4 separate regions of the Homo sapiens genome follow, and all the other regions are reported to be linked to region 3. The links are microRNA targets in miRTarBase. Many come from high-throughput screens and were not tested one by one. Region 3 holds a microRNA gene; each other region holds the end of a gene's coding sequence.

Evidence for each region. Region 3 holds the annotated microRNA hsa-miR-1224-5p (GUGAGGACUCGGGAGGUGG, at 2,690-2,708, opposite strand). A microRNA usually pairs through its seed, bases 2 to 8, with sites in the 3' UTR of a target mRNA and lowers its output. Matches are read on the target gene's strand: a 7mer-m8 pairs with bases 2 to 8, a 7mer-A1 pairs with bases 2 to 7 and ends in A, and an 8mer does both.
Region 1: the mRNA of SLCO4C1 is a reported target of hsa-miR-1224-5p. Seed matches in the 3' UTR shown: 7mer-A1 at 5,695-5,701.
Region 2: the mRNA of OXR1 is a reported target of hsa-miR-1224-5p. Seed matches in the 3' UTR shown: 7mer-A1 at 2,658-2,664.
Region 4: miRTarBase lists CD207 as a target of hsa-miR-1224-5p. Seed matches in the 3' UTR shown: 7mer-m8 at 5,528-5,534.

The regions. Positions count from the first base shown.
Region 1 is chr5:102,230,835-102,238,908 of GRCh38, forward strand. SLCO4C1 (solute carrier organic anion transporter family member 4C1) reads right to left here. Exons shown (of 13, transcript NM_180991.5): 13 at 3,152-6,184. The coding sequence ends at 6,024. Among named protein-coding and RNA genes, the nearest start is that of SLCO4C1, 61 kb to the right of the region's middle.
Region 2 is chr8:106,749,112-106,757,185 of GRCh38, forward strand. OXR1 (oxidation resistance 1) reads left to right here. Exons shown (of 17, transcript NM_001198533.2): 17 at 1,695-3,583. The coding sequence ends at 1,830. Among named protein-coding and RNA genes, the nearest start is that of ABRA, 17 kb to the right of the region's middle.
Region 3 is chr3:184,236,039-184,244,112 of GRCh38, reverse strand. It overlaps MIR1224 (microRNA 1224), which reads right to left and starts at 2,708; the gene lies at 2,624-2,708. VWA5B2 (von Willebrand factor A domain containing 5B2) reads right to left here. Exons shown (of 20, transcript NM_001390846.1): 9 at 7,851-7,961; 10 at 7,562-7,770; 11 at 7,364-7,475; 12 at 6,702-6,887; 13 at 5,639-5,810; 14 at 5,240-5,550; 15 at 4,530-4,719; 16 at 4,077-4,424; 17 at 3,185-3,322; 18 at 3,006-3,089; 19 at 2,709-2,926; 20 at 1,784-2,623. The coding sequence ends at 2,075. ALG3 (ALG3 alpha-1,3- mannosyltransferase) reads left to right here. Exons shown (of 9, transcript NM_005787.6): 6 at 117-322; 7 at 483-559; 8 at 1,156-1,300; 9 at 1,437-1,812. The coding sequence ends at 1,599. RefSeq lists a silencer at 1,898-2,192.
Region 4 is chr2:70,824,819-70,832,892 of GRCh38, forward strand. CD207 (CD207 molecule) reads right to left here. Exons shown (of 6, transcript NM_015717.5): 5 at 6,883-7,001; 6 at 5,393-6,382. The coding sequence ends at 6,232. It also overlaps a transcript of CLEC4F not described here. Among named protein-coding and RNA genes, the nearest start is that of CD207, 7.0 kb to the right of the region's middle. RefSeq lists an enhancer at 5,695-6,894.

The DNA of each region.
Region 1 (8,074 bases), not on the chromosome of region 3:
CATCTTGGTTTTCAATTGTTTGATCCTTAAATAATGGAAAGTATAAGAAGAGCCTGGAGTATCTTGTGGTGCTAAAAAGTAAGGATGTCCTCAAATAATGTTGTAAAGATGTCCAAAAAACACAGGAGCCAACATAATGTGGCTCCAATGTCTACATAAAAACCATTTGACAAAAAAAAACTAGTGGATAATAACCTAGTCAATTAATGTATATTTGTTCAAATAATAGAGTAACTTTAAATAAACAGAGAGAAAGGGACAGTTCTTTCTTAGATTACAATACCAATTAATACATGTTACACAAGTGATGAATACAGAAAATCACTATTAGCAAAAACCATATTAAGCACGCAAGAATCAAAAATGGATGCTAAAATTAGTGGATGAAAGTTTGCTGAGAAACAGGATATTTGGATGGTCTCAAAGTATCCCTTCAAGAGCTAGTTATTAATAACACAGGAGAAAATAAAATTAGAGTGGTCATTGCTGGCAGATACATACCTTAACCAAGTGATCAAAGTTCTGTCATATTTAGACAACATGTACTCGCTAATATGTGCGTTGAGAAGAGTATATCATTTTTGCCAAAAAATACGTATAATGTTAATATAATCATGAGAAAACATCAGACTAATCCAAATTGATAGATATTCCACAAAATAATTGGCCAATCCTTTTCAAAATTGTCAAGGTAATATATGGTAGACAGCCCCCAATATCACCCCAATGATAGTCACAATATGCATGCCTCTTGGTACTACCTTTTGTCTTTTCTTCCCACTCTATACCAGGCATGGTAGGCAGATTTGTAAAGATGTGTTCTCCTCCCTGGCTTATTCAACCAAATATGAATCAAGGTCTTCTAGTTTACTGCAAAGTTCTTTTAAATCCTTTTAAGGACTTTGCAGCTGGAATTAAGATTACTAAGGTCATCTGTATGACCAGTAGACTGTGGTAGAAAAGATGGTATGTCACTTCTAAAATCAAATCATATAAGACACTGTGCTTTCAGTTTTGGTTGCTCTCACTCTCTTTTGTGTCATTCACCCTGGTAGCAGTCAGCTGCCACGTCACAAGACCTATGAAGAGGCTCACATGTTGAGGAATGAAGTTCTTTTTCAAACAAACATGTGAGCACACTTTCTTACAAGCACATTACTCAATCCCAGAGAACCCTTCAGATGATTACACCCCCAGCCAATATCTTTATTGAGACTTCTTGAGAAACTTCAAACCAGAGCCACCCAGCACAGCTGCTCCTGAAATCCTGACACACAAAAATGGTAGGATAATAAATGTTTCCTGTTTTAAGCCACTGAAGTTTAGAGTTATTTGACACATAGACATAGAGAGGAAATATATCATGAAGAAAAAAGACTGGGTAACCATTCCAGATTGGAAAAGATTAAGAAGCAGTAATAAATAAATTTAACATGGGATCCTTGACTGGGTTCAGATCAGATAAAGACCACTGAAGCAGGAAATTACCCTGATCCCTTTGCAGGGGGGAACTGGAGTGTGGACACTGGAGCTAGCTGGTTGCTTTGGTGCCAGCAGGGGTAAACTCCACTCACTAGAACCTGTTATGCTCAACCCCTTGTGGAAGAGAGCACATAAGTGAGTGGATGCAGGAGCCAGGGTGAGTGCTTTGGGGCACCAACAGGAAACGCCGTGCAGGCTCCATGGAAGCATCTAATGGGGAGTACCCACGACTCCCGAAGCCCCAGGGGCATGCTTTACAGCGTTCTTTTAGCTTTGCTGTCTGCTGACGGCTTAAGTGTGAAACAGCTCAGTAGGCGCTCTGCCTTTTGACGTGAGGCAGTTGCTCTCCACCAGTGAGGGCAGAGGGTCAGAGTGATAGCCTTTAGCATTCGCACCCGTGGCACATGAGCTGTTGTTCAACATCCAGGAAAAATCAGGTTGCATGAAAAAATTGAAGGGTAGTGAATGTGAAGGACTTTATTGCCTATGAAAGTGGCTCTCAGCCGCAAGGGGAGCTGGAAAAGGGATAGAGCAGGAAGATGATCTTTTCCTGAAGTCCAGTGGCCTGGACTTCTTCTCTCCAGCCCCAAACCAGTTTCCAATGTCCAGCTGCTTTTCATCTTCTCCTCGCCTGCTCTGCTGGCAAAGCCTGGGATGGCACAGGATAGGGGGCAGAGTGGGCCATGGGTGGTTTTGGAAAAGGCAACATTTGAGCAGGAAAACAGGAATGCATGTTCTCACTTTGGGCTGTAGTTCCAGGCTTGAGGGTGGGGCCTTTACCAGGACTCGCTCTCTTCTGCCCAGAATTTCCCAGCCTCCTGTCCTTGTCACCACTAGTGTTATGATTGGCAAAATTATAATAAAATCTGTAGATTAGTTAATAGTATCATGCCAATGCTAGTTTCTTCGTAATTGTTTCTAGTTTTAGGTAATTGTTCTATGGATTTTTAAAATATTAACACTAGAGAAAGCTTATAGAGGAATTTTATGTGTACTATTTTACAAAGTCTAAAAGCACTACAAAATAAAATTTTAAATGGAAAGTCAGACGCACTAAATTTGAAAAGAAAAAAATGATCAATTCTTGATAATTTTTATAAGCTAAATTAATTTTAGCTGAAGCACTAAAATGTTATAATCCAACTTACCCATTGAGTTTTTCAAAGTGGATTATCTTTCATCTATTTTTGATTACTCATATGTGCTGTAAAAGTTAGTGTTTATTGGACTTTACTGAAAAAAAAGCTGAAGGAGCCTGGGGGAAAAGAACATTACATTTCAAATTAACATCTAATATTATTTCCTTAAAATATTTTACTATTACAATAAACTGAGATAAATTAAACACATCCCACACTTTTTTATCAGATAGTTTACAAATAAACCATCTGTAAAATGTATCCTACTTATATAAATCTTATATATTAATCTGTCATATGTAGAAACTTGTGTAAGAGAATTTCCCTAATATATATTTCATAATACATGTGGTTTGTATTGAATTAAAAACATCTGTTGAGATACAAGAAATCACTGGATTAAATTATTAATACATTCACCAAGTTCAAAAGCATACTAATTTCCCTTTCCCATCCATAAAATATGCTTATGTTCACAGAGATAAGGCAAGTTTCAAACCTGTGTCATTTAATAAGCTCAAACACGACAATTTTGTATAAACATTCTGATTTAATAAATGGTATGAATATATATTTTGCATACTTTACAATAAAGAAAATTTTGAAAGAAAATGGATCTAAAACTTTGTTTCCCTCCAATTTACATAGTAAAGTCAACTGCATACAGTTCTTTCCATGTGTAAGTTTTACATTTGTATTTTCTACAATTAAGTAAATCTAAATGTTAAATTTTAACACATATATCCAATTATGTACACAATTACAATGTCAATTTATAAGTCAAGCTTACTTAACAATCATAAATTACAAAAAACGCACTATGAATAATTTTGTTCTAGAAGTATCACATCAACTCATATGATCTAGGTGAACCCAAAAGTAAAAAATAATGATTATAAATTATGGTAGTGTCTGTAAAACCCTGTTATAAAGGAGGTATTCTTTTAAAATATGTACCTTATATATAAAAGCTCCTGACTCCTTTTAAGGACCAAAATTATTTTCAGTCTAACCATTTTCATTAAAGCGCTTATTTAAAAAGTATCACCTTATAAAACTGAGTATATAAAATACAATGCAGCCCTTGATAGCTAAGAATCTTTATAAACGCCAATGATTTAGTGACCTGTTTATCAAACTATTTCTATGGATGGGTTGATTTTTTTTCTTCCTCTAAATTAAGTGGCCCTAGACTAATATATTTGTTCAGTTATTCTGTTTTCTTCCTTACTGCCATTTCACATCTCCATCAGTGAGTTCCTCAGGATTTGCCTTTATGTTACAACTATGAAAGTCTTCAATCCAATTCCCTGCTTCCACACAAAGGACAAAGAAAGCCTAAACTTTCCTTTTCCTTTTTTCTGGGCTCCAATAGGAAGCAGCATTTACAACGTGTCTGGCTTGGTGGGAGGAAGATTGTCAATTGAGGTATCATGTGTGTTCACCTGCCTCTCTTGCCCTATTTCTTTGGTTGCTATAAATTTCCTGCTTCTCAAATATCTGGATTTTTGGCTACCTATTTGGCTTCCGTCTTTGGTGTTTATATCTGTCTGGTTTTAGCAGGTCTCTCTGATTCCTGACCCACAGCTCCTCTCCTTCTCTAATATTCAAGTATGCTGCTTCCCTAACTCCTCATTCCTTCTCCTTGAATTTCACTTTACAATTGCGCTAGGTTCTAACATCGTTGGCCATAGATTACCACAAAACATAATTTCTTAAATTCTGCAAATTTCTAATGTTTCTAATCTTGGTTTCCTACAAGATCTAACACTAAGCTTGTGTTATCCTGATTACAGTGTATATAAAACAATGCTTGTGGAAAATTAACCTAGGAGAAAGCTTATAGGGGAAACCTGATGATGAATTTTATTAAATTAATAACCCTTATAACAATTTCAAATGTAATACTATCTGGATTTGAACTTCAATACTTTTCCTAAGTAAAATTCTTAACCATGGTAGAAGTTATGTTTGTTGATGTTCACTCATCTATACCCTCCATATTCTCAGCAAAGTTGGCATAAATCTGACCTGAATAAACAGGGTTATAACATTATCAGGCTTGTAAAATACTTTATCAAATCAATGCATCAGTTAAAGCAGGGGTCCCCAGCCCTGGGCTGTGTGTGGCCTGTTAGGAATCGGGCCACACAGTTGGTGAGCTGAGAGGCAGGTGAGTGAGCATTACTGCCTGAGCTCCACCTCTTGTTAGATCAGTAGTGGCATTAGATTCTCATAGGAGTGCACACTCCATTGGGAACTGCACATGCAAGGGATCTAGGTTGCACTCTCCTTATGAGAATCTAACTAATGCCTGATGGTCTGAGGTGGAGCAGTTTCATCTCAAAACCATACCTTCTTCCCCCATGGAAAAATTGTCTTCCACAAAAATGGTCCCTGATGCAAAAAAGGTTGGGGACTGCTGAGTTAAAGGGTAGGGTTTAATATTCTAATTAAACAATAATAATAGATGACTACACTATGCAAGGCACTGTCTTAGGTGCTATGAGTAATGTGTTAAGTGGTTGGCTTTTCAAATAGGAAAAATTAAAGGTATATAAGTATTGATCAATAGTTTCATGTTTAGTTGGCATTTTTCTTTACTGACTGGTACTTTCCTCTGAAATATATGCAATTGAATAATATTATCACAGAATCATAAATGTGTTAAAAATTGTAATATCAACAAATTACCTCCTGGAATTCTTGAGTTAAAGTGAAAATATGTGTATACAATGCTGATGTTTCTGTATTCACTATATACTAAGACACAAGGATGATAACTAACATATTCTAATAGTTCAATAATTTGCTTGGAGAAAGGCCAGGCTAGTATACATAAATTTAAAAACAAATTACATGGTAAACCTGGTTTTAAATTCATAGGCTTTCAATAATAATTCCCGGAAATCATCACACAACTTTGATTAGTTTAAATTTTTATACCATAAATGTTCTAAGCTCAAAATATTGACAATGAAAATTAAAATTAAACAAGTTGTAATGGGGATAGAAACAACATTTTTTTTAAATGTAAATTTTTCTAATTGTGGGCCTTTTTTCTTGTTATTGCTTGAGGATTTCATACCTAGACAATGGGAATAGGAAATAAGTGTGTATGTGTGCGTGTGTGTGTGTGTGTGTGTGTTCGTGTGTGTGTGTGTGTGTGTGCTCGTGTGTGTGTGTGCTGTGTTTTGAGGCTTTACGTGGGCTTTGAAGGCACAGGTCTGTTTCTTGCATAAAACAAAAACTACATAAGTAAAAAAATACATTTGATTATAAAAACATCAATTTTGTAAATATGATTGTCCATATTGGATAGATAATCCTGCCATGGCAATGTGTGTTCTTAAAAATCGAGGTAAATTTTCCAGGTGTAAAACAGTCTTCTCTTTTCCCATTTCACCCTTCTTTTACTATTTTGTTGAGATCCTGTTCTGCTAAAACATTAGTCACAACTGCATTCTCTTTATGAAATGACACATCTGTGGCTGATGGAGGTGGTTTATACAAAAAGATTGCAAATCCATTGAAGAACATGGTGATAACTTTACAAGTAACACCTAAGTGAAAAAAAAAATTAATCATGTGCTTTTGTTTTTAATTATGATAAAAATTATCACTGAGAAAAATCTTCATGAATAGAACATTTTTAAAGAGAATAATTACATAACCATTATAGTTCTATGTTTAAAATTTTTGAAACATTAAGGGGAAAGAAAAAACATTTGTATACAATTCAAGTCACTAGTACTTATTTTCTTTCTAAGCTGTAATAGAGCACAATAATTAACTTATTCTTGGTTATGCTTGTGCATTCTTGTAAAATAAGTGTTGTATAGAACTAAATAGGAATTGGGCCACCATCTAGATTTGTTAACACAAGCCCATAATCCCAGTACTTTGGGAAGCTGAGAGAGGTGGATGTCTTGAGTCCAAGAGTTCGAGACCAGGCTGGGCACCATAGGAAACCCTGTCTCTACCAAAAAAAAAAAGTGCAAAATATATTCAGGTATGATGGATGGTACAGCCTGCAGTCCCAGCTACTTGGGATGCTGACGTGAGAGGATCGCTTCACCCCTAGAGGTGGAGGTTGCAGTGAGCTGAGATCACACCACTGCACTCCAGCCTGGGTGACAGACAGAAACCCCGTCTCAAAAATAAATAAATAAATTCGTTAACACAATATGATATCTATAAAAAATTGCAAGCAACCAAAAGTCAATAATGAGGGAAAGTAGTTTGTAACATTCTTGAACCTGAATAAATTGAAGAACATTCCCTTCCAGGACAGAAAATAATTCTAAAAATTAAAAAGGTTTTGGAGTTCTTAAAGCCTCTGTGGGAGGATATCACACTCAATACTTAACCAAATCTACTCTTCTTATCAGCTAAAAATAAACATTAAGATTCACTTCACAAACTTTGATTTATTTCCAAGTAAATCTGATTTTAAGTTCAGTTATATGAAGAGAAACTAGTTCCAACCACAGTATAAGCATTTAATAATTGCCAGCCTAATAAATTCAACGTGGTCTCACAGTATAGTTCTTGCAGTAGCTGGTTTCTTTTTGTTGATTATTAATATTTTGTTTAAAAACATGTATTTGAAAAACAGGAATGCTCATTCATCTAGGCATTACTAGACTATAGAATGATTAGTTACATAGGTACAACTTACAACTTTTTTTATTTGTTTCATTCTGAAAATTTTAAGGTTTTATATATTTTGTGGGGGGATTCCCATTCATCATTGACTAGGAAAATGAATGATTTGTTCTATCTATATCTTTGACCAAAAAGTACAAACAAAATGAATTAAATAAATTTTAAACATAAAAACATTGTATGTAGCCATGATTGTGGTAAAAATATATAATTTTAAAAATTGAATAAAAAATGGTTTTTAACAACAGGTAAAGTAATGGGATGATTAATTTTGCCTATACTTGTCAATACTTACTCCCCAAGTGCTATAAGAATTTATAGATTATTTCTTCAGCAAATATTCTATTACTCTATCTCTATCAACTCAGAAAGCATACTCTGGATTTACATGCATGTAAGAGTAATAATAGCCTATCTTGATCAACCTGTGTCAAAATAATCACAATGAAAATCACACATTATATTAGATACATATGTATACATACATTCAGGATTTCTCTAAGCTATTTTAGTTTCCTAGGTTATTATTCAAATTTTAAATTTTTAAATTTCAACTTTTATTTTACTAGTGTAAACTAGATACATTGTTTTACTTAATCTTAATCTTGCCTTAAATTTCATTCATTGCTTAACCAAGACATTACAAACTGCAAAAGGCAAAAAGAATTAAACATCACAGCTAACCTTCTAAACTATAAAAATGTTCCTTACAACGTGCCTTGGAGACAAAGGATACTTCCCTGCCTGAGCCATATGTGTTTGCAACACCTAGATACCTAGATGAC
Region 2 (8,074 bases), not on the chromosome of region 3:
GCGGGTGGATCACAAGGTCAGGAGATCGATACCATCCTGGCTAACACAGTGAAATCCCATCTCTACTAAAAAACAGAAAAAATTAGCCGGGCGTGGTGGCAGGCACCTGTAGTCCCAGCTATTTGGGAGGCTAAGGCAGGAGAATGGCGTGAACCCAGGAGGCGGAGCTTGCAGTGCGCCAAGATCACGCCACTGCACTCCAGCTAGGGTGACAGAGCGAGACTCTGTCTCAAAAAAAAAAAAAAAAATAGGTCAGTTCCTCTCCCACACAAGTCAGTTAACTCTGTAATGCCATGTGACTCCTGATGGCAAGCCTGAAGGTCAGAGGTTATAGCCACCCAAATTATAGAGTTGTGTAAGTCTTTACAATTACCTAATATGCTTTTCTTTTTTGTGTGTTTTAATATAATTGACAAACTCTACCCCAGAGAGGTTAAGTGACTTAACTAAGTTTGACATAAGTTGTGGCCACTGAGTTGACAGACAAGTCTTGATCCCAGACCAGTTTTTTTCTTTCAATGAAATATAACTGCCCATATTTTTTAAAAAAGCCTCCGCCTCCTAAACTCTGGCTCAATTCTGCTGACTTGATATATTACTTTAGATTTAGAGAATCCCAAGGGATAGCTCTCTGGATATTATGTTAATTAATAGTCTTTGCCCCCTCTCCTCTTCTATTAGGTAGGAAAACATTTTCTAGAGAATAGAAAGAAGTCCTCTCATAACCTGGTGTTTTCCCCTCTCGGTTATGTATTAGATAATTAGATAAATTGGACCTTATAATCTATCTGTTAAGTTCCTGTTATACCTAGATTATATCTTGGTTCTTCTGCTTGAATCTCAACATCACATATTTGTCCATTTAAAGTCCTTTCAAACTGAGCTCTTTTGCAAACAGCTTCCTATGCAGGAAACCAGAGTTATTTACTAGGTCCTTAACATGAATCCCCAAATTTTATTTTAGATGATACTGAATTTTTGTGCCTTTGCGAAAGTCATGTTAAATATGTTAAAACCATACCGAAAAGATAAACACACACATACACAAAAAAAAAACCATACTAAAAAAAATACCCAAAGAAAAACTCATAATACCAGGCAAAAAATTACAGCGTAGTACCTGTCTCAAAAGCTAATCCTATATAAAGTTCATTATAGAGGACACTGTTCCTGGTCTGTATCATAAATAATTTTTTTCTTTTCTTTTCTTTTCTTTTTTTTTTTTTTTTTTGAGACAGAGTTTCACTCTTGTCGCGCAGGCTGGAGTGCAATGGTGCAATCTTGGCTCATTGCAACCTCCGCCTCCTGGGTTCAAGTGCTTCTCCTGCCTCTGCCTCCCGAGTAGCTGGGATTACAGGCATGTGCCACCGCGCCTGGCTAATTTTTTTTGTATTTTTTAGTAGAGACAGGGTTTCTCCATGTTGGTCAGGCTGGTCTTGAACTCCCGACCTCAGGTGATCCGCTGGCCTCGGCCTCCCAAAGTGCTGGGATTACAGGCATGAGCCACCACACCCGGCCCATAAATAATTTTTTAATGGAATAGGAGTAAAACAAAATTGTGTCAGTGTGGAAAGGAGTAGGGAAGGATTTGAGAAAATTAATAACTTTAGGGTTGTTAGGTATTCAAAGTCTCATTTAAATTGTTTTATAACTTAAGGCATAAATATTAACAGATTATTATTTATGTATTGCAGAGGAGAATTTGCGCTTTGGCTTGATGGAGATCTCTACCATGGAAGAAGCCATTCTTGTAAAACGTTTGGGAATCGTACACTTTCTAAGAAGGAAGATTTCTTTATCCAAGATATTGAAATCTGGGCTTTTGAATAAATAAAATGCTCTCTGTCTTAGCAGGAGAATGGCCCAAACCTGACATGGACAAGCATTGTTTGGAAAGTTCAAGAAGCAATACAGTGTAACATGTCACTTGTGCTTTAAAATTAGTCTGTATCACCATTTATTACAGTTATAATTTTGGAGTTTATTTTTCAAATCATGTTCTTGTCCCAGAGTTCTTTAGGTTAACACTAGGGACTGCGTCCATGTACTAGTATAACAGCTTGGGTTTGTTAGAATTTGGGCAACATTTTGATTATAATGACAACTTCATTTTCACATGTTACTCAGTTCCCTAATAGGATGGTGCTCTTTTGTTGAACCTGTATTGATTTTTTTTTTTTTAACTATATTGATTCGTTTACTAGAACAGTCTAATTGGGGCATTGAGGAAATGAAGACTGGATACTTCTGTATCTGTGAAGTTGGCACAGGTAACATTTGGACATGTTCATCTTATTCTTAGGAAGGAAAAAATCACTTGCCAAAATAATACATACTTCATAGACCACTGAGTTCTAGTTTTTATTCACACTACAACATTCTCTTTAACGATGTTGCAGGTATTCTCAATTTCCTTTTAAGAAAAATGAAATGTGAGGAGAATTCTGGTTGTAATAGATGACAGTACATATGATCTGCAGGTTTGGGCATATGCTTTCATCATTAAATTATCTGATAAAGTTACAAGTCACAAAGGAGAATGAGAACTTAATGATTCTATTGGATTTAATATATTAGCAAGAAAACATACTATTTACATATGTGTAGCTTAGTAAGGCATTAACATAAGTACAAAAACTATGAAACAGATGCATATTTCCTCAACATACTGTGTCAGGTATACTGTTTTATAATTTGGTTGTTTTAGCCTTATTGCACACCAACTCCCAAAATATAGGTTACTCTTGTTCAAAAGGAAAAAAAAAATTGTGATTTTCTTTGAGTGGTATATGTTATTAATTACCATTAGCATTTGCTCTTATAAAGGGCAATGATTATAGTAGACAATATTGTAACTCAGTAGACTTGTTGAATATGCAAACTTACTGTCAAGTGACCTCAAAAAAAAAATGAAAAGATAGAATACACTAGTAGTTCTTATCCTCTTTTGTAGGAAACCAATAATAGCCATTGTGGCAATAATTCATCAGTTGATTTTAAAGCTTCATGTTATGCAAAAAAGAATCCTGCTGTTATACATGTGACAGTGACTTTGTGCTGAAATTTCAGCTATTCCAGATAAACATTGTATATCTTGTAAATTAATGTTTAAAGGTGTAGTTTTGTTCTTACAGAAAGTGTTGATTGCCAGGTTGCTTATAGCACTTTAAGTTATTCTAAAAATGAAATTATAAGCCAAATATTTGGCTTAAGTAGATTTAGTTGTATAGCACTTACATATTTAGTTCTTTTGAAAGTTTAGATAATTATTTAAAGAAAGCATAATGCTAATGGAAAAGAAAATCTGATGTTCTATTATAATATGCTATTGCTGAATATGAATAGAAATACAGGGCATCATTTCCTTGTCTCATTATAAGTTAGTAACAATATATAGATTAAATGTTTACAATATAGGGAATTGTAAATAAATATATCAGTTTTTTTCCCCTTCGGTCTTCCACAGCAGTATTATTGTCTTTGTGGAGTTGACTAATGATAATTTAAAAATCCTGTAATGGATTTCTACTAAAATAAGGTCATAGTGGCATATACCAAATAAAATCAAATACAGAAATACAAATGAGTTTGGATTTATTGAATACTCATTTTCTTAACAAGTCTTTGATTAAGCCTACTACTATCTTTTTTTTTTTAATGCTTCTAATAGCTTACATTGTGGTGGTGGTGGTCATGGTGTTAGGAGTAATAGTGATAGGAGAATGCATTCAATTAGAGGGAGCATTACATTTTTTAAAATGGAGATGGGAGAAGGCACTTGACACATGGGAAAGTGTAAGTTATTTGATATTTTTAAAGTACATTGTTTTCATTTTGGGTGGAGAATGCATAACAAGCTAAGCCCCTTATCATAAACAGTTATGTGTGTGCAATGCCAAGAAATTTTGATATTTTGTATCCCGTAGGTTCAGTTAACATTTGAGAGGAGGAATGACATGATCAGGTGTATACTTTAGGAAAATATCTGTGAAAAATAGATGAGTAGAAGGAACAACTAGAGACAAGGGGAAAACAAGCCTTTTATAAAGTCCAGAAAAAAAATGATTAGGCCCGAATAAGAACAGTGGTAATGGTAATAAGGAAGCATGGATTTGGAAAGGATTTATGAGTTAGGATGAACAGGAGTTGATTATTGATTGGATGTCAGAAAAAGTTAAAGATAGCTCCCAGGATTTTGATTTAAGAGTTTAGTTGTATTATTTATCAAGATGGGCAAGGTACATAGAGGAAAAACAAAAAAAAGCAGGTGGCAAAATGAAGTTAGTCGTGGACTTTATGAGAGTATGATGTGAGAAACAGGAGAATAAACTTTTTGGGAGTAGGACATTTTATATACTATTCTGAAAGATGAACTTTAAAAGTCAACAAAAAACAATAAAACTCTTTCACTTTTTATATGCAAACAAATATGAAATTTATGTATTACCATTTGTAATACCATTGAAAATATCAGATATATAACAAAGTGAAGACCAAAATAGGAAGGATATACCATATTCATTACTGGCAGACAATATTGATTAAAAGATATCAGTTCTCTTAAATTATATTGACAGTGAAAATCTCACCCAGGCTTATTTTTTGGAAATTAAACTGATTGTAGAGTTTATATGGAAATGTAAAATCAAAGAATAGCTAAGCCATCATGGAAGAATTGAGTGTCTGGTCTTCAGTATCAGATAATCATGATTTATTAGAAAGCTGAGTAAGAAAGACAATATATTGGTCAAAAGTTCAGAAAGAAACTGATTTCTGAAGAAGGTGATACTGCTGTCTGCTCAGTAAAGAAGACAGTCTGTTCAATAAAAGATGGTGGATTAGGCCGGGTGTGGTGGCTCATGCCTGTAATCCCAGCACTTTGGGAGGCCAGGACAGGTGGATCACGAGGTCAGGAGATCGAGACCATCCTGGGTAACACGGTGAAACCCCGTCTGTACTAAAAATACAAAAAACTAACCGGGTGTGGTGGCGAACGCCTGTAGTCCCAGCTACTCGAGAGGCTGAGGCAGGAGAATGGCATGAACCTGGGAGGTGGAGCTTGCAGTGAGCAGAGATCGTGCCACTGCACTCCAGCCTGGGCGACTGAGCAAGACTCCGTCTCAAAAAAAAAAAAAAAAAGATGGTAGATTAATTGGATATCTATATGGAACAAAAAGTCTTATCTCACACCACAAACAATTAGAGATTGAAAAATAATTGTGAAAAGCAAAACAATAAAGACATTAGTTTATATAGGAGAATATCTTCATGACCTTAGGGTAAGCATATATTTCTTTAATGGGACACAAAAAGCACTAAATATAAAGGAAAAAAATAAATTATGCTACATTAAAACTTTAAGCACTTCATCAAAAGACATCATTGAAAGTAAGAAGGTGTCCAATAAGAGTGAAAGCTGTTGTTTTCTCCAACTTTTATTTTTGGTTTGAGGGTACATGTGAAGGTTGGTTTCATAGGTAGACACGTGTCACAGGGGTTTGTTGTACATACTATTTCATCACCCAGGTATTAAGCTTAGTACCCAACAGTTACCTTTTCTGTTACTTGCCATCCTCCCACACCCCCACTCCAGTAGACCATTTTGTCTGTTGTTTCCCTCCATGTGTTCATAAGTTCTCATCATTTGGCTCCTACTTATAAGTGAGAACATGTAGTATTTGGTTTTCTGTTCCTGCATTAGTATGCTAAGGGTAATAGCCTCCAGCTTTATCCGTGTTCCTGCAAAAGACATGATCTCATTCTTTTTATGGCTGCTTAGTATTCCATGGTATATATGTACCACATCTTCTTTATCCAGTCTGTCATTGATGAACATTTAGGTTGATTCCATGTCTTCGCTGTTGTGGATAGCGCTGCAGTGAACGTTCATATGCATGTGTCCTTATGGTAGAAAGATTTATATTTCTCTGGGTATATACCCAGTAATGGGATTGCTATGTTGAGTAGTAGTTCTGCTTTTAGGTCTTTGAAGAATCACCCCGGCTTCCTTACACCATACACAAAGAGCAGCTCAAGATGGATTAAAGACTTAAATGTAAAACCCAAAACTGAAAGCTGTTTTAAAAGGGAATGTAGAGTGGAACAACCTTGGAAAATGTTTCTGGCAGTATCCACTAAAGCTAAGTATACACATGACTTTGACCAGCAAATTTAATTCAGTGATATGTACTGAACAGTAATATGTATATGTGTTTACCAAGAGATGTGCTGGAATGTTTACAGAACTATTTGCTTGCTCTCTTCACTTCCCATCCTCTCTCCTCCTGTACACATACCCACACACCCTACTTATTAATTTACTGCATCTCATTGTTTCACTTTACCTATAAAGATGTGTATGCATTTCCTAAGAACAGAGATGTCCTCCTAAATAGCCAAAGTACAATGATCAGATTCAGGGAATTTAACATTAATACAATAATATGGTCTAATATGTAATTCATTTCAAATTTCTCCAGTGACCCTAATAATATCCTTTCAAGCATTATTTTTCCTGGTTCATGATCCAAAGATCCTGCATTGCATTCAATTGTTCTGCCCTTTTTTTTTTTAATCTCTTTTAACCTGGAAGAGCTCATTATTCATTGCTTCATGACAGTTAGTTGTGTGTTTGAAAAATTTCAGGATTGTAGAATGTGCTTTGATGTGGATTTGTCTGAATTTTTCCTTATGCTTAAATTTTGGTTATGCATTTTTCATAGGAAAACCAAAGAAGTGTTGTCCTCTGCATCAAATCAGGGTGCACATAATGTATGTTTATCCCTTTATTGGTGATATTAGCTTTGATTATTTGATTAGATAGTGTCTACCATGTTTCTCTCCTGCTATCAGTTTTCCTTGTGTAATAAGTAATATGTAGAGAGATGCGTATTTTTAAACTTTTTCATTCCCAACACATTAGTTGCCATTGCCATTTACTACAAGGAAGAGCTTTCCTTTCTCCATCATTTATGAATATGTATTATCAGTATGAACTAATGAATTCTCTTTTTTCTTTTTCTTTTTCTTTTCTTTTCTTTTTTTTTTTTTTTTTTTTTTGAGATGGAGTCTCGCTCTGTCACTCAGGCTGGAGTGCAGTGGCGCGATCTCGGCTCACTGCAAGCTCCGCCTCCCGGGTTCATGCCATTCTCCTGCCTCAGCCTCCCCAGCAGCTGGGACTACAGCGCCCACCACCACGCTCGCTAATTTTTTTTGTATTTTTAGTAGAGACGGGGTTTCACCGTGTTACCCAGGATGGTCTTGATCTCCTGACCTCATGATCTGCCTGCCTCAGCCTCCCAAAGTGCTGGGATTACCGGCGTGAGCCACCATGCCCGGCCGAATTCTCTTTTTTCTAATTCAAAAGGTTACGTAATCAATTTCTATCCTAGACTTAACCAGTCAGAACCCCATCGGTCTTATTTCTATGAGTTTTTCAATTTTCTTGAGCATTTGCTTACTCCTCGTTTAACAAAAATGTTTTAGATTTATTTGTACTTTCTGTAACCCAATCCTAGAATCAGCCATTTCTGAAAGGACCCATATTTCCTTTGCAGGAGAATATTATTTAGAATCAGGGGCACTTGTTGCTACTAGGGTGGTATCACTTTAGGGCCTTTCAGGAGACATCTAAATACAGCATAAATTCACACCAATACCACTCCTTGCAATCTCACATCACAGAGTTCTTGCTTGTCTTCCCTCATTCCATGTTTGTCTCTTCCCCCACAGTCAGGACATCTGTGTATTTACTTGTTTGCTTCATTTTATGATACACACCTTAGAATTTCAGAATTGCCAAACCCATGCCCTCCCAAACACCAAAATTAAGTAGAATTTGACATTTCTTTGTAGTTCTTTTATGTCTTTAGACTGAAAGTATTTATTCAAAAAGTATTGTATTCAAAAGTTGGGTACATTTCTTTTTTCTTCCTGTGTAGTTATTTTAATAAGATAAAATAGAATTCAGTTTATTTGCTTTGTGTCCAATTTTAGTTTTTCTCCTACTTCTATTTGATTTTACTTTATTTCATGCATAATATTTAAGTTCCCAAAAGTCAAAACCTCTAACCCT
Region 3 (8,074 bases):
GAATTGGGGAACCTCTGAGGCCTACATCCCCGTCCCACACCCCTCAATGAGTAGCATGAAGGCTGGTCATTGGGAATGAGCCTTGGCAGCTCTGCTGACATCACACCAATCCTCAGGTGGTGCTGGGGCTGCCCTTCCTGCTGGAGAACCCCAGCGGCTACCTGTCCCGCTCCTTTGACCTTGGCCGCCAGTTTCTGTTCCACTGGACAGTGAACTGGCGCTTCCTCCCAGAGGCGCTCTTCCTGCATCGAGCCTTCCACCTGGCCCTGTTGACTGCCCACCTCACCCTGCTCCTGCTGTTTGCCCTCTGCAGGTGGCACAGGTGAGAAAAGGCAGTAGTGCCATGGGCAGAGTTGGGGGAAGGAGTGAAGGGCCTAAGCCTTAGGGGCTGCTTGGGGGAAGTGTCAGTTAAGCTCATGGGGTGAGTCTAGAGTTTGACTCACAAAAGGGGCTTGATAACTGTCTGAATGGCTTTTCTCCAGGACAGGGGAAAGTATCTTGTCGCTGCTGAGGGATCCCTCCAAAAGGAAGGTTCCACCCCAGCCCCTTACACCCAACCATATCCTTTAAATTGTGGGAAGGTAAGTCTTGCCCTCTCTAGGTGCTGACAGAGTCCTGGTCAGGTATCCCTTGACAGCTGGTGACCTGGGCGAGGAAAGGGGACCCCAATCATAGAAGTCCTATTCTGCACCACTGTGCTGAGCACTTCACATATTGAAGGATATTTGATTCTTAATTCTAAATACGAGCTACTCTTATGAGTACTTCTCCCTGGTACTATCATAAGAGATTTACATATGTTCTAATATTGAAAGCTCACAAGAGACCCCGAGACAGGGAGGTACACTTACATTTACTATTCTCATTTTACAGATGGAAAAATTAAGACTTCATGAGGTTAAGTAACTTACCAAGGTCACACAGCCAGTAAGTTAGGGGTTCAAACCCACAAGACCTTATGGCCCTAGGTATTACTCTCTCCATATTCCATATTTGGTTGAGGAGCAGGTCCAGAGAGGTTAATAAACTTGCCCAAAGGCATGCATCAAGGAATGGCAGAGCCAGAGGGCTATGTGACCTAAAAACTATTGCCCCTCTGTTTTGGGATAGTCCCCCCCACACACACTCCTGCCCTTGGCCTTGACCACCGCATACAGATCGTTTCTACCCTCTTCACCTCCAACTTCATTGGCATCTGCTTCAGCCGCTCCCTCCACTACCAGTTCTACGTCTGGTATTTCCACACACTGCCCTACCTCCTGTGGGCCATGCCTGCACGCTGGCTCACACACCTGCTCAGGTACCAGCTGGGACAACCTGGGGGAGTGGGAAGGGATAGGGAGTTCCTGTTGGGGGTTTATGTCTAGGGCATGAGGAGCTGCAGGTCTGCAGGCCTTGCAACTGGATGAAACGTGGAACCTGTTTCTCATCTCCAGGTTGTTGGTGCTGGGGCTCATCGAGCTCTCCTGGAACACATACCCTTCCACATCCTGCAGCTCTGCTGCCCTGCACATATGCCATGCCGTCATCCTGCTGCAGCTCTGGCTGGGCCCGCAGCCTTTCCCCAAGAGCACCCAACACAGCAAGAAAGCCCACTGAAGTCCACCCCTTTCCCTCAGGACCTGAGTCTACCCTCAGGACCTGGGGTTGGTTGGACTCTGCCCTTCCAAATAAACCTTGCTAAGTCCAACTCTGTGCAACCTACATGGAGGTGGGGGCAGCCGATGCCTGGTCCAGGCTGTGAGGGACACGTATGGAGCAGATAAAGAATTCACTCAAGCAGTCCTAAGAGGCACTTTATTGCATAGGATTTGGGGACTGTGGCTCTCTACCCTTCCACTGTGTTGCAGGGAGCTCAGAGGATGGAGGGGAGTGTGAGTGGGGTGGGAGGAGAGGGAGAGAGCACAGGCAGGCACTTTTTGTGGGGGCAAGAGGGCTCTAGGGAGGGAGTAAGAAGCAGTGGGGGACAGGCTGGCACCAGCCTACACTTTCCCAGCACCAAGAGGCCAGCCCTGGGCGGCAGTGACTTGAGTGTGTTGGGTGGGGCGCCAGCCCAAGCAGCAGGGGGCAGCCTTCACACGTTCGCTGGGCTGTAGCACAGCAGGTGTAGCTGCAGGTTTTGGTCCCAGTGGCGCAGTAGCAGGAAGAGCCCTCGGGCTGCGGCCTTGAGGGCGGCCAGGTCAAGGCCGTCAGGCAAGTGCTGGGCCCGCAGCCAGCAATCAGCCTTGGCCGCTGTCAGTTCCCACTCGTCGAAGGCAGCGGCGCATCGGTGCTCCAGCCAGGCGAGTGCTACGGCAGTGGCCCAGGTCCGGCCCCGCAGGTCGGTGCCGCCCAGCCCTTCCGCCCCCTCGGAGGCCTCGGTGTCTGAGCCCCGCCCACTGTCCACCTGGCCTGGCCCCTCAGAGCCCGAGCTGGGGGACGGGCTGCAGGAGGCCGTGGCACTGTCACCCTGGCCAACACCAGGGCCCAGAAGTGCCCAGGGCAATGAGGCCGAGGTGGGGCTGAGGCTGGCGCGGTGCACGGCAAAGGGCGAGGCACGGCAGAGGCGCTCCTGCGAGATGCGCACAGCGGCGCAGAAGGGCGCGTCCAGGCGGAAGGAGCCTGGTGCCTCCTGCAGCCGCACCTGAGGAGAGAGGAGGTGGGGGGAGAAGCGAGCTGAAACAGCGCCCGGCCCCGGCGGCACCACCCTCCACCTCCCGAGTCCTCACCAAGGGCAGGTAGTCATGGTCGCTGCCTTCACTGTTGTTGGCCTGGCCCGGGTCAGGGCTACAGAGTTTGTGACGGCGGCCCATGCTGAGCCGACAGGGAGGACGGGGAGGTGGGCGGCGAGGACCTTCCGTGGGAGTGGCAGGGTCCCCCAAAGCACGCTTGGAGTTGCCATTTTGGTCCGAGTCCCAGGCGCCTGCTGGAGAGCCTCTCTGAAGTCCTGCAGTGGGGATCATCAGTGCCAGGGGGCGGTCTCTAAGCCCAAGTGCCCCTACCCTTTCCCTACCTTTGGGTGTTACCTTTAGAGTAGACAACAGTGGGCAGAGGAGCTGCATCTAGATGGCTGTGAGAGGCAGGAGGGGTTCCTGGGGGCTCAGCGGGCTCTGCAGGGGCACATGGGACAGGAGTCAGGTTTGTCCAGGAGAGTGGCCAGTGAGGTGAGAGCTGCACCTGAGAGGTCACCAGAAGAGGCCCCTACCTGAGCTGCACACCTGCAGGGCCCCAGGCAGGACCTCCCTAGTAGTAGCATCCACAGCTACAGGGCAAGTGAAGCAGGAGGGGGCAGAGCTGACCTTACTTGTCTGAAGGGCTCGAAGCCAGCACCTCCGGGCATGGCCTGTGGAACCAAGGAGCAGTCTGTGGAGCCCCCACCACCCACCCTCTACAGAGGGCTCATAGAAAAAATTGCAGTGTTCTCCCCAGCTTCTCCCTCTATCGACTTTAACAGAGTAGATTGCCTTGCTAGGCCCAGAACCAGCTCAGACTCCCCAACTTTGACAAGAAGTGATCAGGCTGAATCTTCAACCCATAGCAGAGCAAGAGCCCCCTGGCTGCCCAGAAATTCAGCACTCTGGACAACACCCAGAGGAAGCATTAGCTGGCACATTTTCCTCCACCTGCTTCTGCACTAATAAAACTTGGAAATGTTCTCTCTCTTCATGATCCAATGTGGTAGCCACTAGTCACATTTGACTATTGAGTACTTCAGCTGTGGTTAGTGCAACTGAGGAAATGAACTTTAAGTATTTTCCTAAATGACAAAGATTTGTTTTTACGTTGTGGGTGCTGTGAATCATGACAGGATCACGTTGCCCTCTGTGCTGGCTGCTAGGAAGCTTGTCAGTTCTGGATCTGATCCTTGCAAGAGTATATAACCTCACAGCATGCACCTTTAATATAACCTCATTCTCAGTTTCCTTTTATTTTTACTTTTTCCCATTGTCCCGCTTAATTTTTTATCTTGTCTGTGATGAGCCTCAAATCCTTTGTGATCAAAGCGAGGTATAGAGAGTGATCAAACACACAGACCTCTACCTTTGCTGTTTTTAGCCCATGCCTTTGGGTCCTGACTGGACCCATGAGCAACTCACCCCGGTCAGCTGTGGTCTCTGCCCCTCCTCGGAGGGCCAGCTGCTCATTGTCCCGGACCACAGAGGCTGCTGTCAGCCGATGGAGTGCTTGGTCCCAAGCAGCTTCTCTTACAGGAGGTGAGGGAGGCTGTGAGCCATCTCCAGGTCCCCACAGTGTCTCCAGCCCAACACCCACCTCCCAGCACATGGGCTGCTCCCCACACAGGCCCCGGATCACCACATGGCAGCGTGGAGCCTGGGGAGGCACTGCTGGAGGGGCCAACTCCCCACTAGGAGGCACAGCCGTGAATAAGAAGGGTGGTTCCATCAGCATGTCCCAGTCCATAGGGGCTGGGGAGAGCAGGTTTCCTGGGGAGGCAAGACAGCAGGGGCATGGGCAGAGTGGTCCTCTGGGCTTTACCTCCCCAAGGCCTCTTTGGTGTCAGGGAAACCAGCTCCCCATCCAACACTTACCTGAGTCATCCAGGCCTTGTCCCAACTGTTGGCCTGGCTCAGGACTTGGGCCATCTAGTATTGCACCCAAAGAGGGTTTCCGGGGTCGGCCGGGGACTTGGTTTGCCCGGCCTGGAGGGGATGAGAGGCTTCGGCCAGCCAGAGCCGCTCTGTGCTGACGGCCCAGCACCTCAGTACTCAAGGCCCCCACCTGCATGTGAGATATGGGGGCCACTGGTCAAGGAATGCAGAACCCTTGACCATCATACATGGGTGCACAGCTGGCCCATGCCCCTTTTCTGAAACCCTGGGTGGCCGCTCACCAGCTTGAGGAGGAAGGCCAAGTTCCTTATGGCCTACAGTGACCTCTGGCCTTGGCCCCTTCCCAGCATCATCCCACTCCACTCCCTATTTCCCACTTGTGGTTGTTGCTTGTCTCTGTATTTTCGTTTATGTCTTCTCCCTCTCTGCATGGCTAACTCGTGCTTATTCTTCCAGATATGGCTCTGACTTTCCTGACTCTCTCAGGCAGAATTAGTCACCCTGACTTTAAGCCCCCTTAATACATGTCCTTGTGCTCATCACTGGTTGTTACATGGTATCGTTGGGGATTTACCCACCTTTCTCTCTAGCTAGACTTAATAGTAAACTCTACATAATATCTGGTGCACAGCAGGTGGTAAATAAATATTTGCTGGATACAAGGCGAATGAATGTGGGTTGGATCTCACCTTGAATGGAGCTGGTGTGGGTGCAGGCAGGGGACAGGAGCGGGAGCCTGCAGGTTCTCCCCAGGCCAGACTGCGGCAGCCCTGCTGAGAAGGGGGCTCCAAGGGAGCACTACCTTCGGGGGAGCCAGGGCCCTGTGAGCCTGGGGACTCACTGCTGCCTGTGGAGCCTGGGCCTGGCTCGGGGCTGGCAGAGCAGTGGGTGAGCACATACTGCTCCCGAATGTACGAGGACTGAAAGATGCGGCGCCATATGGCTGTGTCAGAGGGGTTGGGTCCAGGATCCGTGACTGGGTCTGTCAGAGCATCAGTACCTGCTGGGAGGCAGTAGAATGGGCCCTAGCCCTGACCCCTCCCAGCGCCCACTCCAATACAGCCACACACATACACCTGGGCACTCACTCTGCTCCGAGTCCCTGGCAGCCCATGGGCTGGACAGTTCTGCTGAGACAGTGCCTGTTCCCAGTGGCTCTGAGGTGCCAGTGGGCTCAGTGCCAGGGCTGGCAGCAGACGGGGCCTCTTCTGGGGATGGAAACACGGACCCACCCGAGCTCTGCCAGCCAGGCTCTTGGCCCTAGAGAGAATATTATTGGGAAAAAAATTAACTGCAGTTATGTGCTACCTCTTTCCAAACATTTTTAGATGGCTCACAGCAAGAGGCAACAAAGCTAATAAACCAGAAACAAAAGACCAGTACTAAAGAAGGAGGAAGCAGACATGTTCACTGTAAGGGTTAATAGAGCTGCTGGGAAGCTGAGCTTTAAGTTTGGCCCTGAGCTCCCTGGCAGCCAGGCAAAAAAAAAAGTCTGTTATGCAGCTCTCATGATCAAAAAGGAGGAAGCGTGCAGAGTTCTTCTAAAGAGATAAAGCTTTTCATTAAAAAATAACTACCATGTCCCCAGCTCCTACTGTGTCAAGTGTTCTGCCAGGAGTACTCACTTTATGACCCCTGATGACAACCACCTGTGAAAAACCTCATTTCCATATGAGGAAATGGGTCAGTGAGGTGAAGTGACTTGCTCAAATCAAATGGCTGGTAAGTGACAGAGCTGGGATTAGAGATTGTGCCTAGGTTATGCTCATCCATCACTGCGTGTCCCAGAAAATACGCTGGCTGGTGCTTTCTATAGGGAACTATGTGAAGCCATGAGCAAGCCTTGACGGAAACCTCATAGCAAATGCAGGTGCTGTTTTCTGTGGCTGTGTGCTTTAGTGACCTTGGGTAAAAACTGAGGGGTAACACTTTGCAGGACAACTCAGTGGAAGACTCCATGAAGGGGACAGGGTGTGGTCATCTTAGGGGGCCCAGTGTGATCTCTGTGGAGTCCTAGGGGATAGTAGAGAAGCTTGGTAGAGAGAGGCACAGAGAATGGAAAAAGGGTTTGGAAGAGATGCGGGGACTTCAGCCATCCCAGGCCCCCCTACCTCACCCTAGCCCCCCTACCACACCCCAGCCCAAGCTTACCCCTGGTGGGCGGGACCGGAAGCCATCCACCCTGAAGAGTGAGCAGTAACCGAGCAGCTGGTCCCCAGGGTAGAGTGCTGGGATCTCCCGGGGGGTCAGCAGTGCCTCCACAGTGTCGGGCACAAACCAGTCCACAGAGATGTCACTCAAAGCAGGCTCCAGTGCCTTCCGCAGAGCCTGTACCAGCTGTGGGGAGTGGCCACAGGGAAGACATGGGAAGGAAAGAGGTGTCATACGGCCAGACAGAGCAGGAAGGCTGCCCTTCCCCTGATGCCATCTGCCCAGCCCCTAAGCTGATGGGGCACAGGGCCAGGCTGGGGTCAGGAGAAGGAATGAGGGTAGGAGCAAGCAGGGGGCTGAGTGCTCAGCCCTCAGGATTTGGTCTGTCTCCTGGCCTGAGCTTTGCCACATGGATGGGGCAAGACTGTGAGGACGAGGCTCCGTTCCAGGACTAAATGGGATTCAGAGGGTGGTCAGAGACAGTGTCCTGACACCTTTGGCCTTCACAGCACCAACAGCTCTTCCCCTGATTGGAGTGGGGAGAAGGCCTGGTGAGGGCGCCAGGAGCCCCCATGGCCTGCCTGAGTTCTGTTTCAGACTTGATGTGTAACTTGGGAGAAAAACTTCCAGGTGTAGGGAACAGGGCCCAGGCTCAAGCTCACCATGGGCTGCAGCCTCTGCCCAGGCCTCAGGAAGTAGGCCTGGCCTCTGCTGAGGGCAGATAAACCCTGGAGCAGCTGGTGGCAGGTGGGCCCCAGCCCAAAGGAGAAGCATCTGATGAAGGAAAGGAAGCAGCTGTGATCTTCAGGAGCCCCTTGTGGGGGCTCAGTCTTACGCATCTGGTTCTGCCCATCCCATACCTGGCTGTCCCCCTGTGCCACCTCATGAGCTCCAGGGTTCGGTGGGTAGTGGCGGCCATGGGTGAGGCAGCAGTGAGCAGGAACAGCTGCCGAGGGTAGGCCCTGTGCTGGGGCTGCCCCACGGCCCAGTCCAGAGCAGCCAGCACGTCTGGGGGCCCACTCGGAACCTGCAGGGTCTCAATGCTCTCGCAGATCAGCTGCACAGCATCCTGGAGCGAGAAGGCACAGGCTGGGACGCACTGGGCTGAAACCTCTCTGTAAGGCCCCCAGATCCCTGGACCACACTCACATCACTGCAAGGCCGGCTCTCTGGGAAGAGTGGCTGCACCAACGTCCCAAACACGGCCAGGTTGATAAGCGTCTGGGGCGGGAGGGACTTCACAGCCAAAACAATGGCATCCTGTGGAGGGCCAGGGAGGGCGGCGTGAGGCCGGCCCCATGGGCCCTGATACAGAGCAAGGGAAGCCAGATCACTGCGTTATCCAGGCTGTGATTCAAGTGAGAGGCTGTGGT
Region 4 (8,074 bases), not on the chromosome of region 3:
AGTAAGTAAACAAATAGATAAGTCTCTAGGGCAGAAAATGTCCAAATATTTTATGTAAATATCCCATTCTGAGAAAAGTAGAGTGTAACTTCCTACTCTTTCAGTGTGAACTGCATATAGTGACTTCCTTCCAAAAAGTTCAGTACAGGAAAAGGGAGAAAAGAGTAATTCTGGAGTCAATAAACTTGGCAAACACTACCCCAGCCTGGAGATCAAGGTCAACGCCAACAGTAATGAATTCTATTGATGGTATGTACCCTTCATAGGATGTGATGAGAATGGCCCTTTATCTCCATGGTCTTCCTCCTGAAACTCAGTACCCCAATGTAATCATGAGAAAAACACCAGACAAATTCCATTTAAGGGACAATCTACAAAGTACCTGACCAGTGGGCTCCTCAAAACTGTCAAAGTCTTCAAAAACAAGGAAAGACTGAGAAAATGTCACAGCCAAGAGGATCCCAAGGAGACATGATGGCTAAATGTAACGTGGTATTCTGGATGGGATCCTAGGAGAGAAAAAGGATGTTAGGGGAAAACCAACGAAATCTGAATAAAGTATGGACTTCAGTTAAATATTGGCTCATTAATTGTGACAAATGTACCATACTAATATAAGATGTTAACAATCGGGGAAATGGGAAAGGGTGGGTATATAGAAACTCTCTGTATTATCTTCACAATTTTTCTGTAAAGCTGAAACTATTCTATAATATAAAGTTTTTAAAAAAAATTTTTGAGACAGGGTCTCACTCTATCACCCAGGCTGGAGTACAGTGGCGTGATTACAGCTCACTGCAGCCTTGACCTCCCAGGTTCAAGCAATTCTCCCACCTCAGACTCTTGATTTGCTGGGACTACAGGCACACGCCACCACACACGGCTAAGTTTTGTATTTTTTTTTTAGAGACAGGGTCTCCCTATGTTGCCCAGGCTGGCCTCAAACTCTTGTGATCAAGTGATTCTCCTTGAGTTCTGTGCTCTGTGAACACAGGCATGAGCCACTGAGCCCAGCCTAAAAAGGTATTTAAAAGATATTAGGGATGGCTGGGTATGGCAACTCACACCTGTAATCTAAGCACTTTGGGAAGCTGAGGCAGGAGGATCACCTGAGCTCAGGAGTTTGAAGCCAGCCTGGGCAACATAGCAAGACCTCATCTCTACTAAAATTAAAAAAAAATTAGCTGGGCATGGTGGTGCACACCTGAGGTTCCAGGTACTCAGGAGGCTAAGGCAGGAGGATTGGTTAAACCCAGGAGTTCAAGGTTGCAGTGAGCTGTGATTGTGCCACTGTACTCCAACCTGAGTGGCAAAGGGAGGCCCTGTCTCAAAAAAATCAAAATTAAAAAAAGACATAAGTAGTAATTATGGAATCTCAGAAGACCAGAGTCAAGCTTTAGAGTCTATGCTGGCAGGAGGAATGCTCCAATAACGGCAGCACTAAATCTAGTCTGAGCTCTGAAAAAACACCAGGACAAATCAAAGGTCTCACATGGTTGAATCTGACCGGTGGTCCCTGGGTCACATGACTGCACTTTAAAAATAAATAAATAATTAAATTAAATTAAATTAAATTAAAACAGGGTCTTGCTCTGTAGCCCAGGCTAGAATGCAGTGGTGTGATCACAGCTCACTGCAGCCTCAATCTCTTGAGCCCAAGCAATCCTCCCACCTCAGCCTCCCAAGAGCTAGGATTACAAGTCCGCACTACCACACCCAGCTAATTTTTTTTGTATTTTTTGTGGAGACGGGGTCCCACTGGGTTGACCAAGCAGATCTTCAACTCCTGGCCTCAAGTGATCCTCCTGCCTTGGCTCCCAAAGGGCCTCCCAAAGCATCTAGCCTCATGCCTGCACTTTTCTGCAAGGAAGGCTGTAAGTGCTAGTTCTGCTTCTAACTTTAAAAGGTGAACTCAAAATACAGGAAGATACCTAAACCAAGAAGCTGTTCAGGATAAAGGAAGAACCACAAGAGTGTGACAAATGTTTTCCAGTGACATAATTCTATTGCATGTCTGTAGATCTTGTTATTCCTGGAAGCATTTAAGCTTTCAAATGTAACAAATCATTTGTCACGCTTCTTCAACACTAAGTAAAAAACAGATGTCACTCATCTGCCTAAAACACTTCAATGTTTCCTCCTTGTCCTTCACATAAAATCCAAAACCCCTCCTCTGGCTTTGAAGGCCCTCCAACAGCTGCCTGTCCCCTGCTTCACCTCACACCACACTCCAGCTAGACTGGAGTTCTCTTGGTGCCTCAGGCCTGTCACACTCCTTCTCTGCATTTTCTGTTTTCTCTCTCTTTCCTCGTCTGTGTCCCCATCCCACTCTGCCTAAATTCTGCTCATCTCTCAAGGCTCAGCTTATGTGCCTCTTCCTCAGGAAGCCTTACGAAATCCTTTCGCTTTAGGCTCCCACAGAACAATAAAAGTTTCCTTTTTGAAAACACACTGAGTTTATCATAAATTGGGTAGCCTGTGTTTTCTCCCCCAAAAACAGAGATTCATTCTGAGACCTGAAAAAAAAAAGAAAGTTGCCTTGGGACAGATAGGAGGGGAGGTTCTTGGAGGTCTGGGATGGGAACAGAGAGGCAGAGAGAAAGGAGGGCCTGAAATCTGTGAGGGAGGCAACGCATTGCCCTGCTGGGGGCTACCTGGAGCCCTGGCCAGGTGGGGTCACCAAGGGAGCCAATGGCAGCCCCCATGCCCAGGGCCCAGCCCCAACCAGGGCAACAATGCCAGGAATAATGCCAATAATCCCAGAAGCCAGGGTGCTTTGTAAGAAAAAGGGGAAGTGCTAGGCAACTACACACGTGTGTGCGCGCACACACACACACACCCCACCCAAATAATGGCTTATCTTCCAAAGCACTGGGAAAATTAAAGCAAAGAAAGCATAGCTCATACAATATGAGAAAAAGAGGAGAGAGAGAAAGAGAAAGCGAGAGAGAATGACAAAGAGAAAATGAAGTGATTCAATAGATAGATAGATCAATAAAGCATAAAAACAGAAAAATAAAATATAGTACATGTTCACGAGCATTAGGACTAGTTGGTCAGTGGGGGTGATTCAAGTATTTTTTTCTCTTCTTTTATATTCAAACACAAAAGGATAAATTTTTCAAGAGTATTTTATTGCAACATTGAAAGAGGGCATGTCAAGCATTGTTAGCCTGCCAAATCAGAAAAAAAAAGAAAGAAAACAACTAATGTAATACAATAAATACCCAAGTTGACTGAGAAAAAGTTCTCACCTGTCCCTGGCTCCCAACTTTTCACCTGACAATGGAAAAATCCCCAGAATTTCACAAGAAATACTGTGGGGTCCATGATACGAGGAGCTGCCCAGGTATTGATAACACCCCAAGACCTGCTAGAGACAGGACTAGAGCACTATCAATGGTGGGACTTCCTGGGCGAGGCCACACTGCCAGCAGAAGGGCAGGTGCCCATGTAGCGACCTCCCTGGAGAAGCAAGGCATGCATACAGTGGGGGAGGGAGCCAAAGTCACAAGACAAAGCAAAGCGACAGGTGTCCCAGCTTCCTCAAGGGAGGAAGCCAAGGCAATGCTGCACTTGTTGGGTTCAGGCTGGGGCACAGACTCCAGATAAAAACACATCCTCACTGACTCAGGCTCTTTCAGTTTCAAGAAAAAGCAATGGTTGGGGTCAGGAGCACAGCCTCGTAAGGTCCCCATGCACAGAAACCAGGAGGATCAGAAGGGCTGGGAGGATCTGAGGCAGCCCTGGGAACGGGAGCAGCCGGAGCCCTTCAGGCTGCCCTCCGGGACCTCCATTGCGACTCCTCTGAGCCGTTCTCTTTTCTCTGCCAACTATAATCCTCTGCAGTCACTTCTTTTTTTTTGAAACAAAGTCTTGCCCTGTTGCCCAGGCTGGAGTGCAGTGGTGGGATCTCAGCTCACTGCAACCTCTGCCTCCCAGATTCAAGCAATTCTCCTGCCTCAGTCTCCCAAGTAGTTGGAATTACAGGTGCCCACCACCATGCCCGGCTAATTTTTGTATTTTTAGTAGAGATGGGGTTTCACCATGTTGGCCAGGCTGTCTCGAACTCCTGACCTCAGGTGACCCACCCACTTCAGCCTCCCAAAGTGCTGGGATTATAGGCATGAGCCACCATGCCAGGCCTGTATTCATGTCTTTCCCCTGCCTCATAGCTTCTGCTCATTGCTAGTTTCTTCCAATGCCACGTGACGGCCCCTCCAGCCTTTCTCTTAACTCAGTGCCTTCCAGCTCAACTTCCTTTTGTTAACAGCCTCATCCTCTTGCTATTTCCTGGTTCAAATTCTTTCCCAGAGAAATGGTCTGATTTTCCCAGCTCATCTCTTTGCCAAAACCAACCAGAGATCCCCGACCAGCCTTGTTCTTGTCACCTCCCATTTCCTCCATTGGTGAGGGAGGGATCCCCTGCTCTAAATAGGACAAGATGGCCAAAACAAGACATTTGACACTGTGCAGGTGAGACTGGCAGCAGTTTACTAGTCACAAATACAGTCTACTGGGGAAAGATATCATAAGCCACACAGGGCCACATGGGGTCACCCTCAGGAGCAGAGTGAACCAGCCAGGGCTGTGGGAGGCAGGCCTTGTAGTAATAAAAGGATGAGATGCCCCGGATTCCTGTAGGAGGATGTGATTGGCTTGTTTGAATAGTTTCTCAGGCTGGCAGAGAAGTGAAACCCATTAAGTAGAAAACTGGGTGGCATGCAGCTGGTCCAGATGATAGGAAATTAGCCAGGTGGGGACCGAGGGCAAGGATATATCTGGTGAGAGGCAGGGAACTCAGGGTTAGGTCTTTGGGGCCCTGTGAGGCATAAAATGTCACAGCAGCACGTGGTATTTCAGGTCTTACAATACAAGCCTGTGCCCTCAGCTGTGACCCATTTGCACCCAGAACAACACACTGCTGGTTACAGTTATTTAAGGAAGCATCTTTTCCTGAGGACCTTAATGAAGACCTGTGCTCACTCCACCCTCCTCTCCTCTCTGTGGTGGCTGCTGCCTGGATTCCAGCTTCAGCCACTGGACTTGGGATTTGGAACTGATGCCTGTGGAACTGGGTCTCTGTGAAGAGTGGGGAACCTGCTGAGACTTGTTCTTGGGAATTGAGCTATAGACTAGAAGATTGTGCAGTAAACAAGAAGAAAGATCACCAAGATCGTGACATTGGAGACCTTGCTCTACTTTAATAAAAACTAGAGATAAGTACTGGTCACATTTTGTGGCATTTCCAGGACTGGAACTTCCCCAGTCCTTGTTATTTTTGACTCCCCAGATGTTTCCTGAGGATACCCTAGAACTTCATGTCCACCAGAGGAGACTGCCTTTCCCACATATTCACCTGGACAACCAGAAATGAAAAAGTGCACTTGGAGTGAGTCCTTGACCCAGGCAGCATTTTATTCTGAGGAAGCTGGAAGGTGAATTCATGAAGGCACTGAAGGCTGCTTCCCATGCACAAGACACAGGAAGATAGGAAATGCAGAAGGAGGAGGAGGTGCCGGAGAGGTGAGGACAGGGGCTGGATGGACGCTGGGTGGAAGGCAGGGCTCGGCACTCCAGTGTACTAAGGGAGTGGAAGGAGAAGGGAGGCTGGGTGCCAGCCGAGCTCTGAAGGAGATACAAGTCCGTGTCAGCCACTGACTTGAACCAGAGAAGAACGGGTTCAGGCTTTAGATGATGTGGATGAAGAAACCACTGGGGACATACCATGAGCAGGATTTCCAAGAACAGAGCTATTTGCACTGCAAACACAGCCAGCTGCTAGCTGCCAGCACAGCTAAGCAGAGACATGGAAATTCTAGGGGGTTTGGCCAAGAAAAGCCCTGGATGACAATATCAGGAGAATTGCTTGGTTGCTCTGGAGTAACTTTGATGTGATGAAGCTGAGGTTTCTCTGAAAGAGTGGAAAACCCCAGGGTGTTATGCCGGATTACGGGTCTTGATCCTCCTTAGCAGGGCAATTGGAACTTCTAAATCCTCTCTACCCACCCCTCCCACTTTAACCTGAATTCTCCTTTCCATTCCAGCTGCCTCCAAGACGTCAGAGAATTTCCAGCCAAGACAGACGGACTCCAGAATGCCACTGTGGGACAATTTTGAAGCAAGAAAAATTAACGTGCAAAGTCATCCTGGAGTCTGGGGAAGAAAGAGGCATTTCCTCATGTTTAACAAGCGTTGGAGCTCAAAGAGTGAGCTTGGGAGCCTGTCCTGTCACGGTTCTGATGGGACATAGGGTCGCTTACAAATGAAAAGAAACGTTTTGTCACATGGGGCATCATTCCAGGCCTGAAGTGAGGGAGCCTTTATATTGCCACAGTGTTCATTGTTCCCAGCATTGTTGGGCTCACCTGGAATCCAGAACCTACCAAGAGCGGGGAAAAAGATGGATTTACAAAGTGGAAAATCAAAAAGAACTTATTTCCAGTGAAGAAATGAGTTAACTCAACCCAAGCTTTTGTCCTAGGGAATGGCATAGCAAATGTCTGCACCCAAGCCTCAGAGGAAGGGGACTGGTGAGACTTCGACCTCTAAGCTTTCACATGCCCCAAGTCCAGGCCAAACCAACCCACCACTTTCAAGTCCCTACACAAACCCACACTGTGAAGACCTAGACTCATGACAAGATCCCTGAAGCTGGCCAGGTAGAAGGCCTTGTTGCCAAACCCCAGAGGGCGTGGAGGGCTCAGGTCCACAGCCAGTTGGTGACAGGGTTGTGCTCGATCTTGGTTGCAATGTTCCTGTCACTCTAAGACAGGGAAGAATCAGAAACCCTGTCTCATGGGGAACATCGCCCCCACTCCCTTCATGCCCTGGCCATGGCCGGGGAAAGTCAGGCTGGCACGGAGGGCTCCAGGGGCTTACCTCACACTTTGGACCTTGTTGAATGGCGTGTCATCCACCCAGGACCAGTCCCCTTCCATCCCTGCTTTAGTCAGGCCAATCCAGTAGATGAGTCCCCCCGCTGTTTTATACAGAAACTCCTGTAGGAAAGACAGGATAAGCAGAGGTGCGGCCACACTTGGAGCTTGATCATCTGTCTCTGGGTGTTCTTCACCTGCGCTCAGTGACAGCCCTGACCCACAGATGCGCTGCACAAACTGGCCTCTCAAGCTTCTTCCTGCCCTTGCCCAGAGCCCAGATTTCATCTTCCAGATTATGATGTGTCCCTGCTCTGCAGCTAACAAGCTCAGGACTCAAGCCTTTCTGCCACTCAGGAAGCAGGTGCTGAAGCACAGGAAGGCCTCAGCTGAACTCCAGAGCACGGACCGCAAGAGAATGGTTCATATGATAATACCTGAATTAAATGAGCCCTGAATCCACATACGGCACTGTGCTGAGTCGTCCATATGCATTCTCTCCTTTCCTCTGAGGCAGGTGCCATCACCATGCATGTTTCATCAAGTGAGGGCCAGTGAAGTTTGCCCAGTGAAGTTGGGTATTCCACCCAAGCTGCTAGGACTAGTTAGATGGCAAGGTTCAGGCTCTAGAACTACGCCAGAGCCCAGGCTCTGACCTGCTCTGCTATCCCACCTCCCAGATGAAAAGGGCCTGCCCAATTTCTGCCTCACCAGGCAGGAGACTTCTTGAGTCATGTGGAATCATTAAGGCTGTTCACAAATATTTCTTTTTTTCTGGGCACATGGAAAGTAGATCCTCTCTGCCCTGTTCCAGGAGTACTGGAATCCAGGATCCTCCCAATCCAGGAGTACTGCATAACTTACTTAACTTAATTAACATAACTTAAGCTAGTGAAATGTAAGCAAAAATGAGGTATGTTAAATCTGGGCAGAAGCTTTGCACAATATGTCAAGTTCCCCTTTCCTGCCCCAGCAATTGTGGAGACATATTAAGATGAAGACTCCTTGGGCCTGGGTCCTTGAGTAGCCACAGTGAGCACAGCCCCCTTGCCGGCCCTTATTCGACATGCTACTGAGAACCAATCCTTCTTCATTAGGTCATCAATATTTGGGGATTTTTGTTCACGCAGTATAATCTTGCCCATCCTCCCTGGCCCAGTGCTCATACGCCCCCTTCACAGAGCCCATAGGCACAG